Homo sapiens: one gene and its partner. The protein of the gene in region 1 interacts with the protein of each later gene in a pairwise test. Each region holds a gene or a part of one and is shown in the gene's direction. Other genes may lie near its edges. The genes, in order: VMP1 and FGF13.

The links.
Region 2: the proteins of VMP1 (region 1) and FGF13 interact in a two-hybrid assay, tested with the Homo sapiens proteins (one study listed by BioGRID).

The regions. Positions count from the first base shown.
Region 1 is NC_000017.11:59,731,566-59,738,849, forward strand, and holds part of VMP1 (vacuole membrane protein 1), read left to right. Parts: intron 1-3,772; coding exon 3,773-3,908; intron 3,909-5,887; coding exon 5,888-5,978; intron 5,979-7,271; coding exon 7,272-7,284. UniProt on the Homo sapiens protein: Phospholipid scramblase involved in lipid homeostasis and membrane dynamics processes. Has phospholipid scramblase activity toward cholesterol and phosphatidylserine, as well as phosphatidylethanolamine and phosphatidylcholine.
Region 2 is NC_000023.11:138,631,474-138,638,757, reverse strand, and holds part of FGF13 (fibroblast growth factor 13), read left to right. Parts: intron 1-3,102; coding exon 3,103-3,301; intron 3,302-5,771; coding exon 5,772-5,908; 3' UTR 5,909-7,284. UniProt on the Homo sapiens protein: Microtubule-binding protein which directly binds tubulin and is involved in both polymerization and stabilization of microtubules.

The DNA.
Region 1 (7,284 bases):
TGATATACTTTTCATTGGAATAAAATAGAGATATATTACTTCTTTTATTTTTAATCTTATATTATCTTCTTAGTAAATTAAATTATGGGTCAGTCAGGGCCTGTAAGGTGATATTTCACAGTGATGGCAGAAGGAGCCTGGCCACAATCACATAAACAGTGTTCCAAGTACAAGATTATTACTTGTTAATCTTATAGTATGGTCAGTGTTTATTTGGCTTTGCTCAGTGCTCAATTTTATTGTGCTATTTTGTAATTCTAGAAGTAGATTATAAACTTACTACACTGTTCTTAAATATACAGTTATCAAAAAAGTTAGAATGTGAATATTATTTAAAAATTTATTTTAAAATTATCGTTTGAGATGAATAAACTCATATTTTAACCAAATTGGAATTTGTGGTAAATTTCAGTGTATTTGACTCCTGTTTATACAGTTACCCTGAAAATGATGACTTTTATTAATATGGATGATTTAAGTAGAAACTTTCCTTCATGCATTTAAAGGAAAATGAAAAAAAAGTTTTACTTTTGTTGTAATCATACTTTTTTTTTAGCTTTTGAATTGTTTGACATCTCAAACACATGGCAAATAATACTCTAGTGTGGTAATATTTTCACAGCAATCCTCTACTTTTAGAGGAAGTGCAAGGAATCTGAAATAGTAGTTTTCATTTGTTTGTTTGTTTGTTTGCTTTTTGAGACGGAATCTCACTCTGTCACCAGGCTGGAGTGCAATGGTGCGATCTTGGCTCACTGCAACCTCCGCCTCCCAGGTTCAAGCAATTCTGCCTCAGCCTCCCGAGTAGCTGGAATTAAAGGCATGCGCCACCACGCCCAGCCAATTTTTGTATTTTTAGTAGAGATGGGATTTCACCATGTTGGCCAGGGTGGTCTTGAACTCCTGACCTCGGGTGATCCACCCACCTTGGCCTCCCAAAGTGCTGGGATTACAGGCATGAGCCACCGCGCCCGGCCTCATTTGTTTGTTAATCACCATATTGCCTTGCAGAGGACATTTTGCAGCACTGATCTGACTTTTGGGTTACTTTGGTTGTCAGTAAACTTGGCAATTTCACCAAGAGTTTCAGGATTCAGAGATGGGCATTGCATACATCATAGTGTCTTCCCATTAGGAGCTTTTGTGTGCTATTTTTTTCTTTCCTTTTAGAGAGCACATACATTTGTATATTCTTCCTCTTCTGCTCACCCCATTGGAATTTAAAATTAACATTAGCATGTCAAACTTACTCTTCTGTACCAGGTGTTTTTTAATATTTTAGAGATTATGCTATAACTGTACATGAAAAACTGATTCTTAGGCTGGGCGTGGTGATTCACGCCTGTAATCCCAACACTTTGGGAGGCCAAGGCGGAAGGATCTCTTGAGCCCAGGAGTTTGAGACCAGCCAGGACAACACAGGGAAACCTCATCTCTGCAAAAGATTTTAAAAATTTGCTGGATGTGATCGTATGCGCCTGTAGTTCTAGCTAGCTACTCAAGTTCTAGCTAGCTACTGGAAAGACTGAGGTGAGAGTATCGATTTAGCCCACAAGGCTGCAGTGAGCTGCGATCACACCACTGCACTCCAGCCTGGGTGACAGAGCAAGACCCTGTCCCCCAAAAAAAAAAATTTATTCTTTATTATGGCTGCTTAGTTTTTCTTTCCATTGTACGAGTGTGCTGTACTTTAATCACTCTTCTGTCCTCTATTGGTAATATATAAGTTATTGATTATTTTTTGCTAGTACAAATAATGCTGTGGTCAATAAAGTTGTGCAAGTCATTTCACCTTATACCTAATCATTCCTAGAAATGGAATTACCGGTTTACAGTGTATATGCATTTTGTGCTGGGCGTGGTGGCTCACATCTGTAATCCCAGCACTTTGGGAGGCGGAGGTGCGTGGATCACTTGAGGTCAGGAGTTTGAAACCAGCCTGGCCAACATGATGAAACCTCATCTCTACTAAAAATACAAAAAAAAACTAGCCGGGCGTGGTGGCAGATGCCTGTGATCCCAGCTACTCGGGAAGCTCAGGCAGGAGAACCGCTTTAACCAGGGAGGTGGAGGTTGCAGTGAGCCAAAATCATGCTACCACTGCACCCCAGCCTGGGCAACAGAATGAGACCCTGTCTCAAAAAAAACAAAAACAAAAGCATTTTGTAATTTCAATAGATGGTGACAATTAATAGCTAAACTTAATTGGGCACTTACTAAGTGTTAAACTCTTCTGAGAACTTTACATATATGAGCTCATTTAATCCTTAAAATGACCCTGAAAAGTATGTACTATTGTGATCCCCATTTTACAGAAGAGAAAACTGAGTCACAAAAGTATTAACTAACTTGCCCAAGATCACGTGACTAATAGAAGGCAGAGCCAGGATTGGAACCAACTAGTTTGCCTCACCATTTTTGCGATCTAAACCACTTTGTTCTGTAATATGATCCTAGGTTGATAGAATGCCCTTCATAGAAGGTGGACCAATTTAGACTTATTTCAGTAATTTTCCCAAAATCTATAGCTCTATCCCAAATTCAACTGCTGGAATTTTCAGTACCATTTCTTTAGGACATCCTCTACAAAAGATTCTGATGTTTATCAAGGCAGGGAGTTGGTTTTGCCTCAGTTGTTCTCTAGGTAACACTGATTAAGAAATGGCAACTATAATATAGTAGCCCCCTTATCCATGAGGGATACATTCCATGACCCCTAGTGGATATAGGAAAAAACACTGTGTTGTTCTGTATATAGTAATGGGGTAACATATACAACGCGGATGTACTAAACAAAGGGATGAATCAGGTCTTAGGCTGGATGGAGCAGGACTGGCAAGATTTTATTATACTACTCAGAACAGCATACAATATAAAACTTAGGGGCTTGGCTGCAGTAGCTCACACCTGTAATTCCAGCACTTTGGGAGGCCAAGGCGAGCTGATCACTTGAGGTCAGGAGTTTCAGATGAGCCCAGGCAACGTAGTGAGACTGTGTCTCCACAAAAACCAAAAATATTAGTTGGGTGCGGTGGTACACACCTGTAGTCCTAGCTGCTTGGGAGGCTGAGGTGGGAGGATCACTTGACCCCAAGAGTTGGAGTTTAAAGTGAGCTGTGATTATGCCACTGCATTCCAGCTTGGGCAACGGAATGGAGACCCTGTCTCTTAAAAAAATAAAAATAAATTTAAAACAATAAAACTTATGAATTGCTTATTTTCAGAATTTTCCATTTATTATTTTCAGACCATAGTTGACCATGTGTTACTGAAACTGTAGATAAGGGGGAACTACTGTCATTCATCTTCTTTCTATGCTGAGTTGGGACTGGTTGCCTTTTTTTTTTTTTTTTTTTTTTTGAGACAGAGTCTCTTTCATTCTGTTATCCAGGCTGGTCTTCAGTGGCACAATCTCAGTTCACTGCAACCTCTGCCTCCCAGGTTCAAGGGATTCTTGTGCTTCAGCCTCCCGAGTAGCTGGGATTACAGGCGTGTACCACCATGCCCAGCTAATTTTTGTATTATTAGTAGAGACGGAGTTCCACCATGTTGGCCAGGCTGGTCTTGAACTACTGACCTCAAGTGATCTGCCCTCCTCAGCCTCCCAAAGTGCTGAGATTATAGGTACTACTAGTTGCCATTTTTCACAAGACTCTAGGACTTGCTATTAGTTGTTATTTGGGAGATAAAACTCTTTTCATCTAAAGTGATTGAAGAGAATAAGCATAAATGTTAGAAATTCTGTTTTAATCTCTGCACTATTGTTTTTCAGACCCCTCTTCAGTGAATGAAAAGAAGAGGAGGGAGCGGGAAGAAAGGCAGAATATTGTCCTGTGGAGACAGCCGCTCATTACCTTGCAGTATTTTTCTCTGGAAATCCTTGTAATCTTGAAGGAATGGACCTCAAAGTAAAGAGTCTTCTCCCACTACCTTTTACATACACCTCATTTACTCATTTAAAAAATCCTCAGTAATCTCTTACTTTCTGCCCTCTACTCCATCAAAATGGATTAATTACCTTTAGAATATTACCATAGGAACATATTTATTCTCCTTTCTTTAGGTTGAAGAAAAATAGATTAGGGAAAGACATTGCTATTTGCTGTTTGCTTACTGGATTATCACAGTTGTCCACTGTTTTTTCATGTTGAATCTGCAGTGGAGAACACTGAAAAATACGATTTTTATTTTCTCTCCTGATTTTACCATTGGGAGAAATCAGGTCTGTGTAATTTAGATACACTGATTCTTTAGCAGGGCAAGGTTCAGCATATGTGGCAGTTTTACTGATAGTTTGAGCCAATGAAAAAGAACTCTGCCATGGAAATGTGTTGTCTTTAAATTTAGTACTTGTAAGCCCTGTTTCAAGTACCATAAAGAACAAGTTGAACTTTTACATGCCTTATCTTCTGGCATGCCCTTCCAAGTTATTCTCTGTACTATTATCTTAACATTTTTATTGTACTAAGAGTTTATAAAGTATTTTGTAACATTTTCAGCTGATTTTGATCCTTAGGGCAACTCCATAAAGAAGGTAAAACAAGTACATTATTATAAACATTTTAGGCCAGGCGTGGTGGCTCACACCTATAATCCCAGCACTTTGGGAGGTGGGTGGATCATCTGAGGTCAGGAATTCGAGACCTGGCCAACATGGTGAAACCCCGTCTCTACTAAAAATATAAAAATTAGCCGGGCGTGGTGGCATGTGCCTGTAGTCCCAGCTACTCAGGAGGCTGAGGCAGGAGAATCGCTTGAACGTGGGAGGCAGAGGTTGCAGTGAACCGAGATCATGCCACTGCACTCCAGCCTGGGCAACAGAACGATACTCTGTCTCAAAAAAAAAAAAAATTAGCCGGTCGTGGTAGTGCATGCCTGTAATCCCAGCTACTCAGGAAAATCACTTGAACCCAGGAGGTGGAATTTTAGGCCATTTGGGAGGCTGAGGTGGGTGGATCACCTGAGGTCAGGAATTCGAGACCACCCTGGCCAACATGGTGAAACCCCATCTCTACTAAAAATACAAAAATTAGCCGGGCATGGTGGCGTGCGCCTGTAGTCCTAGCAACTTGGGAGGCTGAGGCAGGAGAATAGCTTGAACCCAGGAGGTGGAAGTTGCAGTGAGCCAAGATCATGCCACTGCACTCCAGCCTGGGTGACAGAGCAAGACCCTGTCTCTGAAAAAAAGAAACAAAGCCCGGGCATGGTGGCTCACGGCTGTAATCCCAGCACTTTGAGGGGCCGAGGCAGGCAGATCACTAAGACAGGAGTTCAAGACCAGCCCGGCCAACATAGTGAAACCCCGTCTCTACTAAAAATACAAAAATTAGCCGGGCATGGTGGCACACACCTATAGTCCTAGCAACTTGGGAGGCTGAGGCAGGAGAATAGCTTGAACCCGGGAGGTGGAGCTTGCAGTGAGCTGAGGTCGCACCACTGCACTCCAGCAACAGAGTAAGACTCCATCTCAAAAAAAAATAAAAATAAGTAAATAAAGATTATAAAAACAAGAAACAGAATCAGGTTGGTTAAGTGTCTGGCTGAAAGTGCAACATGAAGGGTCTCTGACCCAGGTCCTCTGACTTGAAGGCCAGTGCTCTTTCTATTATACTATAATGCTTCTCCATATTATAAGTTGAGGTTTAATAAGATCAGGCTTTGGGTAAGGAAAAGGCTACAGTGGGGGTTATGATAAGAACTTGGGTTCTCTGCCTATGTATCTTCCCTTGACCCCCTTCTGTTACTCCAAGAGGCCATGATGTGTAAGGAAAAGAGCTCAGCCCAGCTGAGCTAGGTAACCTAACTGTTTCAGCAAGAAATTGTTCTGAGAATGATGAATGCTGAAAGTGAGACTGTGAGATATTTATTTTTTTTATTTGTTTTTAAGATTATGGCATCGTCAAAGCATTGTGGTGTCTTTTTTACTGCTGCTTGCTGTGCTTATAGCTACGTATTATGTTGAAGGAGTGCATCAACAGGTGAGAGGTCGAGCAATTCTGTTTCTAGTCTTGCACATTCTCTAATTCTCTAATCTCAGTTTCAAATGGGATGAATGTGGGTTTTATAGAATTTCTACCCTCAACATTATCTCATAACTAGTATCTCAAATGTTTTACTTTTAAAGGCATACACTAAAAATATTCTTGTGATGTTTTATGGCTGCTGAGGATTTATATGTGGTGTGTGTGATTCCTTTTACCTTCAAAGATTTTTTTTTTTTTAAAGACAGAGTCTCGCTCTGTCACCCAGGTTGGAGCGCAGTGGTGTGATCTGAGCTCACTGCAACCTCTGCCTCCTGGGTTCAAGCAATTCTCCTGCTGTAGCCTCCCAAGTAGCTGGGATTACAGGCACCTGCCACCACACCCAGCTAATTTTTTTTGTATTTTTGTAGAGATGGGGTTTTGCCATGTTGGCCAGGCTGGTCTCAAACTCCTGACCTCAGGTGATCTGGCTGCCTTGGCCTCCAAAAATGCTGGGATTACAGGCCACTCTGCCTGTAATCAAAGATTTAAATGTAACTTTCCTGAAGGTTTTCCGTCACAGCAGCATGAATCCGTTAATCACTGCCAAAGTTTTCTTATTTTCTCTAACATACTTTTGTGACCCATCCAAATAGGTAGGCCTCTCATCCAAGGTTGATGATTACGTTTTATTTGTATAAAAAGACAGGTTCATTTGCCTGTAGTCTACATGTACAACATTACTGATGGGAAAATAGGATGCTTTGTTAACCTCTTTTGTTAAAATAGCAAAACATTAATGTATTTTAACAGGAAATGGTTCTAGAATGGTATTTTAAAGCAGTTTACTGCCAATCACAGAAATGACTCTAGAATGGTATTTTAAAACAGTTTACTGCCAATCACTGAAATGACTCTAGAATGGTATTTTAAAACAGTTTACTGCTAATCACAGAGAAGTTTTTACAGTTCTAAATGCATTTATTTTAAATATATCTAAAATTATCCTCAAAATTATCTTATTCATAATTTGCTTTTTCCTGTGTCCTGTAAATAGTAGGACTTTAAAAGTTTAGAAACAAGGCTTTTATTAAAGGTTTAGAAATAAGACCTTTATTCCAGTTAGATTAATTTTTTTGTCATCTTTGCCATTGTGTATTAAAGAAATTAGGCCTCTTCAATGGGTTTTTAATCTTATTAGTTTTTTCCTATTTGAAACTTACTTTAGTTGATTTAATTTTGATGATGGTTTATAAATACCGCATTTCTGTATAGAGAATTCACGGTTTTCACCTCATCCCTTTTTTTCAGTATGTGCAACGTA
Region 2 (7,284 bases), on another chromosome or scaffold:
GATTTCATGATATGGTATTAAGGAAAATCCCTGCAGACTTTTTACTAGTTGATAATTCTGAGTCCTAGAATTTCCAATATTTAAATCTGAATCTCTGAAATTCAAATCACATAAACAATAATCAAGCGGTCTGCCATGTGCTAACGTGTCATTTTTGTTGGGGGAAGGTAGATTGGGGAAAAAATAAGACAAGTTCCCTACCATCTGGAGCTAATCATACAGTTGTATGAGTCACAGGGCCATGCTAGAGATGTAGATAGAGTTTATGGGAGCACAGATAACAGGTGTAATCAGTTCTGATTGGGAGAGATTATATGTGATTCTGGAAACAGTCATATTTGAGCTAGGCCTTGGAGGGTTAGAGGAAAGCCAGTAGGTAGAGAAACAAAGGAATGACATTCTAAGCAAAGGAAATGAATGGCATCAGTAAAGCGCAAAGGCACACATGGTTCTGTGGTGAATGACACTGGAAGATGACGCTGGAAGGCATGGTAGTGACTGAATTGTGGAGAATTTTTAAATGTTACATCAAGTTGTTTGTTGTTTTTACTATAGGCAAGGTGAAATCATCAAAATTTCCCAAGGAAGGGAACTTTGCTTTAGGAAAGCAAACCTGCCAGCTGAAGAGAAGAAACCAGTTAGGATGTTATGACAGCAGTCCAGTGAAGAGGTAATAAGGCGCAAAGTAGAGCAGTGGCATTGGGAATGGAAGGTGAAGGTCATGGATCACGGACTAGAGGGCACAGGAATGAAATGAAAGGCCCTCTGAAGTGTTAAGTGAGCAACTGCCAGGATGGTGGATTCCAGTTACTAAGACAGGGAACACAGGAAAAGTAGAGGAAGTGTGGCCCTGTGCTTCAAATATTATTCTTCCCTGTTTTCTGTATTGAAAAGCTCGGCTAAAATGATACCCTCTCTGTGAATCCCTCCCTAGTCCCTCAGTCAGAATTAAGTCTGGCTTTTTCTGTTTTCATACAGCACCTCCTGTAAGCCTCCCTTTCTTTCCTTATGGTAGCACACATTGTATCTATGACATTTGTGTACATGCTTGATACCTACAAATATATGATAAGCTGTCTGAAGCCACATATTACTTACCTATGAATATTTAGCACCGATCAACTACATAATGGATCCTTAGAAAATGTGTATTAAATGAATGTATGAATGCTGCTATCACACAAGACATTAAATGCAGCCCATTTTTGGGACCTGACTTAGAATATGCAATGATCCCATCTCACCATTCTGGAGTCAGCCATACATTGTTTATGTGGCTATTTGGTATCATTTGCCTTGATCATATGCATTTTTCACCAGATATATTTTCAAAATGGTTTGATTCTTTATGAAAGGAAAATCCATTCTCCAATGATGACTTTTTTCCGTACAGTGATTTAATTCCCAAAGAATTTCAGCAACGTTCTATGTACTTGTCCTCATCACTAAAGGAAATGTGGAGACTTCTAGTCAAATTTCTTGGTACTTTCTTGGCTTTCTCTATGTTGAGAAATCCTACAAAGAGGAGTTTTCACAGCCCATAAATAGAACATTTTGGTTCCTAACATGTGACAGTTGCCTTAGAAGTACATTGCTTCTTGAGTAGGTTGAATTTGTGTGAATCCTCTGAACATCTATCGAGTGTGCCCCTAGGCTGAAATAACCCCAAAAGATACTTCAGTTCGTGCATTCTGGGAGCCAGATTGGGAAGATGGGGGGAGATTAGGCAGATTACTGTGTGAAACACTGTTTGTAGAATCCCAGAAAAAAGGAAAGGAAATTGCTTGAGTGCTTAAATTTCAGAGAAAAGCTGCCTTGCCTGAGGAATATATCCCTCTTTGCTGAAGTGACTGAGAGGGCTTCAGATGTTGCTGCTCAGCTAGTGTGTATTGCTTAAAATGGTATCCAATATGAAAAATAAAGGAAGGTAGAACCATGGAGACATTGTTTTTAAAAGACTAGTGCCCCAGAAAGCTTGCAATATTTGTTTGTATACATGTTTTTGGTGATAGTACCAAGTGTTTTTCCTGATAACATCTCAGCAAATTAGCAAAAATCTGATAGTTTAATTGGTGCCTCTATGACATGTAGCTCACTTAGCATTTTCCTAATAATCTTCCACTCCAAGTAGGCCCTTTGCTACTCTATGGATTACTTATACATTCAAATCTACTATTCATTTCATTTAGCTTAGAAATTATCATTTTTAATGGCTGTTTATTGTACACATAGACACGTGTACACTCAAACACACAAAAGGTTTTTTGTTGTTGTTGGTTTTTTTGTTTGTTTGTTTGTTTCCTTGAAATGGTCTATTGAGGGCAGGAGCCCTTCATTTGAAAAATCCAGTCTAAAGTAAAAATGGCCAAATGCATGACAGAAAACCATATTCCTGAGTTCAAAGTCCACTGGGCTGCTCTATCGTGTCTGCTAGTAAAATTGCTGTAAATTCCTTGCTTTTGTATTGATTTGCATGTAAATGTTACTGTAAGGCAAGGATGGGGTGAGGGGGGAATTTTTCTTTCTGTCTCAAGTCAAGGTCCAATGATCCAAAAAAAATCAATTTGGTTTACCTAAAAGTAAAAGGTAGGCTTTCTTTGTAGCATTCTTTTAGAAATATAGGCAGAAAGCATTGTAACACAGATTTCAGCCTGAGGCAATTGACAACCATAGTGTATAATAACTCAAGAATCCATGAAAATTAAGTACAAGGACCGAATGTTTATTTTCTCATATTGAACCCTGAAGGGAACAAAGCTCCATGTGTCAGTTTTATGCTTGTCTTTTCAATCCTTGGCTCTTGTAGTTGTCCAATATATTTCACTTATGTGGCTTGTTCTAATGTTCCCATTACCTATTACAAAGAGAGCTAATCATTGATCAATAGCACTTTCACTTATGACTTTTTCTAAAGCATCATGTGAAATGTTATATGTAGTCTGATGGTTTCCAATGATGATAGTTTATGCTATTAAAATAGAGCACCAGTCACACGAGCTTTTACAAAGTATGTCTTAATCTCCTAAAAGGCAATACCACATGATTCTACAGGAAATTCATAGCTATAAACACTGAACTTTTGTTTATTTACTTTTGTTGCAGGAACTTTTCACACCTGAGTGCAAATTCAAAGAATCAGTGTTTGAAAATTATTATGTGACATATTCATCAATGATATACCGTCAGCAGCAGTCAGGCCGAGGGTGGTATCTGGGTCTGAACAAAGAAGGAGAGATCATGAAAGGCAACCATGTGAAGAAGAACAAGCCTGCAGCTCATTTTCTGCCTAAACCACTGAAAGGTACATTTGATATTGTGGGAACTATGGATTATGCTACTAAATATACTTATTTATTTATTAAATTTCAATAGTTTTGGGGGTACAGGTGGTTTTTGGTTACATAGACAAGCTATTTAGTGGTGATTTCTGAAATTTTGGTGCACTCATCACCCAAGCAGTATACACTGTACCCAGTATGTAGTGTTTTATCCCTCACCCCACTCTCAACCTTCCCCCCAACCAAGTTCCCAAAGTCCATTATATCATGCTTATGCTTTATGTCTTCATAGCTTAGCTCCCACTTAAGTGAGAACATACAATATTTGGCTTTCCATTCCTGAGTTACCTCACTTCGAATAATGGCGTCCAGCTCCATCCAAGTTGCTGCAAAAGATATCATATCATTTCTTTTTATGGCTGAGTAGTATTCCATGGTGTATATATATACCACATTTTTTTATCCACTCGTTGATTGATGGGCACTTAAGTTGGTTCCATATTTTGGCCATTGTGAATTGCGCTGCTATAAACATACCTGTGCAGTTGTGTTTTTCATATGATGACTTATTTTCCTTTCAGTAGCTAGCCAGGAGTGAGATTGCTGGATCCAATGCTACTTTTAGTTCTTTAAGGATTCTCCATACTGTTTTCCATAGTGGTTGTACTGATTTACATTCTCGCCAGCAGTGTAAAAGTGTTCCCTTTCACCACATCCATGCCAACATCTGTTGTTTTTTGACATTTTAATTATAGCCATTCTTGCAGCAGTAAGGTGGTATCTCATTGTGGTTTTAATTTGCATTTCCCTGATGATTAGTGATGTTGAACATTTAGAAATAGTAATTTAAAGCAGTCCTTAATAATACTTTTGAAAATGAAACAGTTGTTCCACATTAAGACATTTATTTAAAAAACTTACATTTTGTAACACTCAAAAACATTTGCTCTCCTGATTTTAATTTTTCCATAGTGCATGTACATATAGTGACACTTTACTTATGTGGAAGTAACTTACATGCTAACTCAGGACAGCCAAGATCCCCAAATTATGCTAAAATGTTGCCTGGGCAGAAACATAGGTGTTAAAAATGTGTATACACAGCCGGGCACGGTGGCTCACGCCTGTAATCCCAGCACTTTGGGGAGGCCGAGGCGGGCGGATCACGAGGTCCGGAGAATGGCGTGAACCTGGGAGGCGGAGCTTACAGCGAGCTGAGATCGTGCCACTGGACTCCAGCCTGGGCGGCAGAGTGAGACTCCGTTTCAAAAAACAAAAGAAAAAAAAAATGTGTGTACACTTAACACTTACCAGAAAGCTCCTTGGGTCCTCTCTAAGGGCCCAACATATTATTTCAGCAAATTTTGCTTATAGTTTTCCCATCATTATTAGCAGATTAATAGCAAATTAGAAAGGGTGAGGGACAAGAATAGGCTATGGAAGATAGGGAGGTAAGAAATAGTGAGATATGGTAGAGAAGAGACAGAAAATGCGGGCAAAGCAGAGGAAGACTTCAAAGAGATTACTAGCCTGAGGTAAGAGTAGGGGTTTAGAGTAGAGGCAGACACTGTGCAATTCGAATAAGCACAGCACTGTGTTTTACAGCACATTTTTTGGAGCCAGACTACCTAAATTCAAGGCCCAACTTCACTTTTTGCTAACTGGATGGTCTTGAACAGGTTATTTACCTGTGTATGCCTCAAGTTCATCTGTATAATATGGATAAGAGTACTTATAAGATTCTCATAGGGACTAAATGGGATAATGCATGCAAAGAACTTAGAGTAGTATCTAATGTTATGTGTTCCATAACTATAAGCTATTATGTTTATTTATAGCACAATAATAAATTTTACCATTTACTGTACCAAGAATTATCCAATACTTAGACTCTTGAAGTGTTTCATTTTAAAGTATGATAGAAATCAGTGTTTTAAAATATTTTAAATTTTAATATTTGCCTTGTACAGTATGCTATAGATCATATTTAAACTTCTAAGAGGTTTATTAAATGCATTTTTTATTAATCCTCTCTTACATAACCATATGTGGTTGAAGTTAGGCATTAAAATTCTTTACACACTACTACACCAAGGCTAGATTTTTGCTTAATCTGAACCTGTCCACTCTCTACTGAGTCCTTGAAAGCAGTGTTTTTCATGTCTGGCTTAAGGCACAGAAGCCTAGTAACCAAAAGAAAAGTTGAGGACCAGTGTGGTAGGCCCATTTTTTTAATGTATTTTTTTTCTCTTTTTCCTTTTCTGAATTTAATTTATAATTGACACAAAAATTGTATATATTTATTATGAACAAGGTATTTTGAAATATGTATACATTGTGGAATAGCTAAATCAAGCTAATTAACATATGCATTACCTCACATACTTATCATTTAGGTGTGTGGAATAGAACACCTACAAACTATTCTTAGAAATTTTCACAATTGGTATGCCCATTTGAAGGCCTTTTACACCATCTTTGTGTGCTTTTCAGTGGCCATGTACAAGGAGCCATCACTGCACGATCTCACGGAGTTCTCCCGATCTGGAAGCGGGACCCCAACCAAGAGCAGAAGTGTCTCTGGCGTGCTGAACGGAGGCAAATCCATGAGCCACAATGAATCAACGTAGCCAGTGAGGGCAAAAGAAGGGCTCTGTAACAGAACCTTACCTCCAGGTGCTGTTGAATTCTTCTAGCAGTCCTTCACCCAAAAGTTCAAATTTGTCAGTGACATTTACCAAACAAACAGGCAGAGTTCACTATTCTATCTGCCATTAGACCTTCTTATCATCCATACTAAAGCCCCATTATTTAGATTGAGCTTGTGCATAAGAATGCCAAGCATTTTAGTGAACTAAATCTGAGAGAAGGACTGCCAAATTTTCTCATGATCTCACCTATACTTTGGGGATGATAATCCAAAAGTATTTCACAGCACTAATGCTGATCAAAATTTGCTCTCCCACCAAGAAAATGTAAAAGACCACAATTGTTCTTCAAAAACAAACAAAACAAAACAAAACAAAATTAACTGCTTAAATGTTTTGTCGGGGCAAACAAAATTATGTGAATTGTGTTGTTTTCTTGGCTTGATGTTTTCTATCTACGCTTGATTCACATGTACTCTTTTCTTTGGCATAGTGCAACTTTATGATTTCTGAAATTCAATGGTTCTATTGACTTTTTGCGTCACTTAATCCAAATCAACCAAATTCAGGGTTGAATCTGAATTGGCTTCTCAGGCTCAAGGTAACAGTGTTCTTGTGGTTTGACCAATTGTTTTTCTTTCTTTTTTTTTTTTTTTAGATTTGTGGTATTCTGGTCAAGTTATTGTGCTGTACTTTGTGCGTAGAAATTGAGTTGTATTGTCAACCCCAGTCAGTAAAGAGAACTTCAAAAAATTATCCTCAAGTGTAGATTTCTCTTAATTCCATTTGTGTATCATGTTAAACTATTGTTGTGGCTTCTTGTGTAAAGACAGGAACTGTGGAACTGTGATGTTGTCTTTTGTGTTGTTAAAATAAGAAATGTCTTATCTGTATATGTATGAGTCTTCCTGTCATTGTATTTGGCACATGAATATTGTGTACAAGGAATTGTTAAGACTGGTTTTCCCTCAACAACATATATTATACTTGCTACTGGAAAAGTGTTTAAGACTTAGCTAGGTTTCCATTTAGATCTTCATATCTGTTGCATGGAAGAAAGTTGGGTTCTTGGCATAGAGTTGCATGATATGTAAGATTTTGTGCATTCATAATTGTTAAAAATCTGTGTTCCAAAAGTGGACATAGCATGTACAGGCAGTTTTCTGTCCTGTGCACAAAAAGTTTAAAAAAGTTGTTTAATATTTGTTGTTGTATACCCAAATACGCACCGAATAAACTCTTTATATTCATTCAAAGAATAATCTTCCAACATGTATTTATTGAGCGTCCATTATGTGCCAGTAACTGAAGTAGCAACTGGAAGTAAACATTGTATAATGCAGATAAGGTCACTGTCC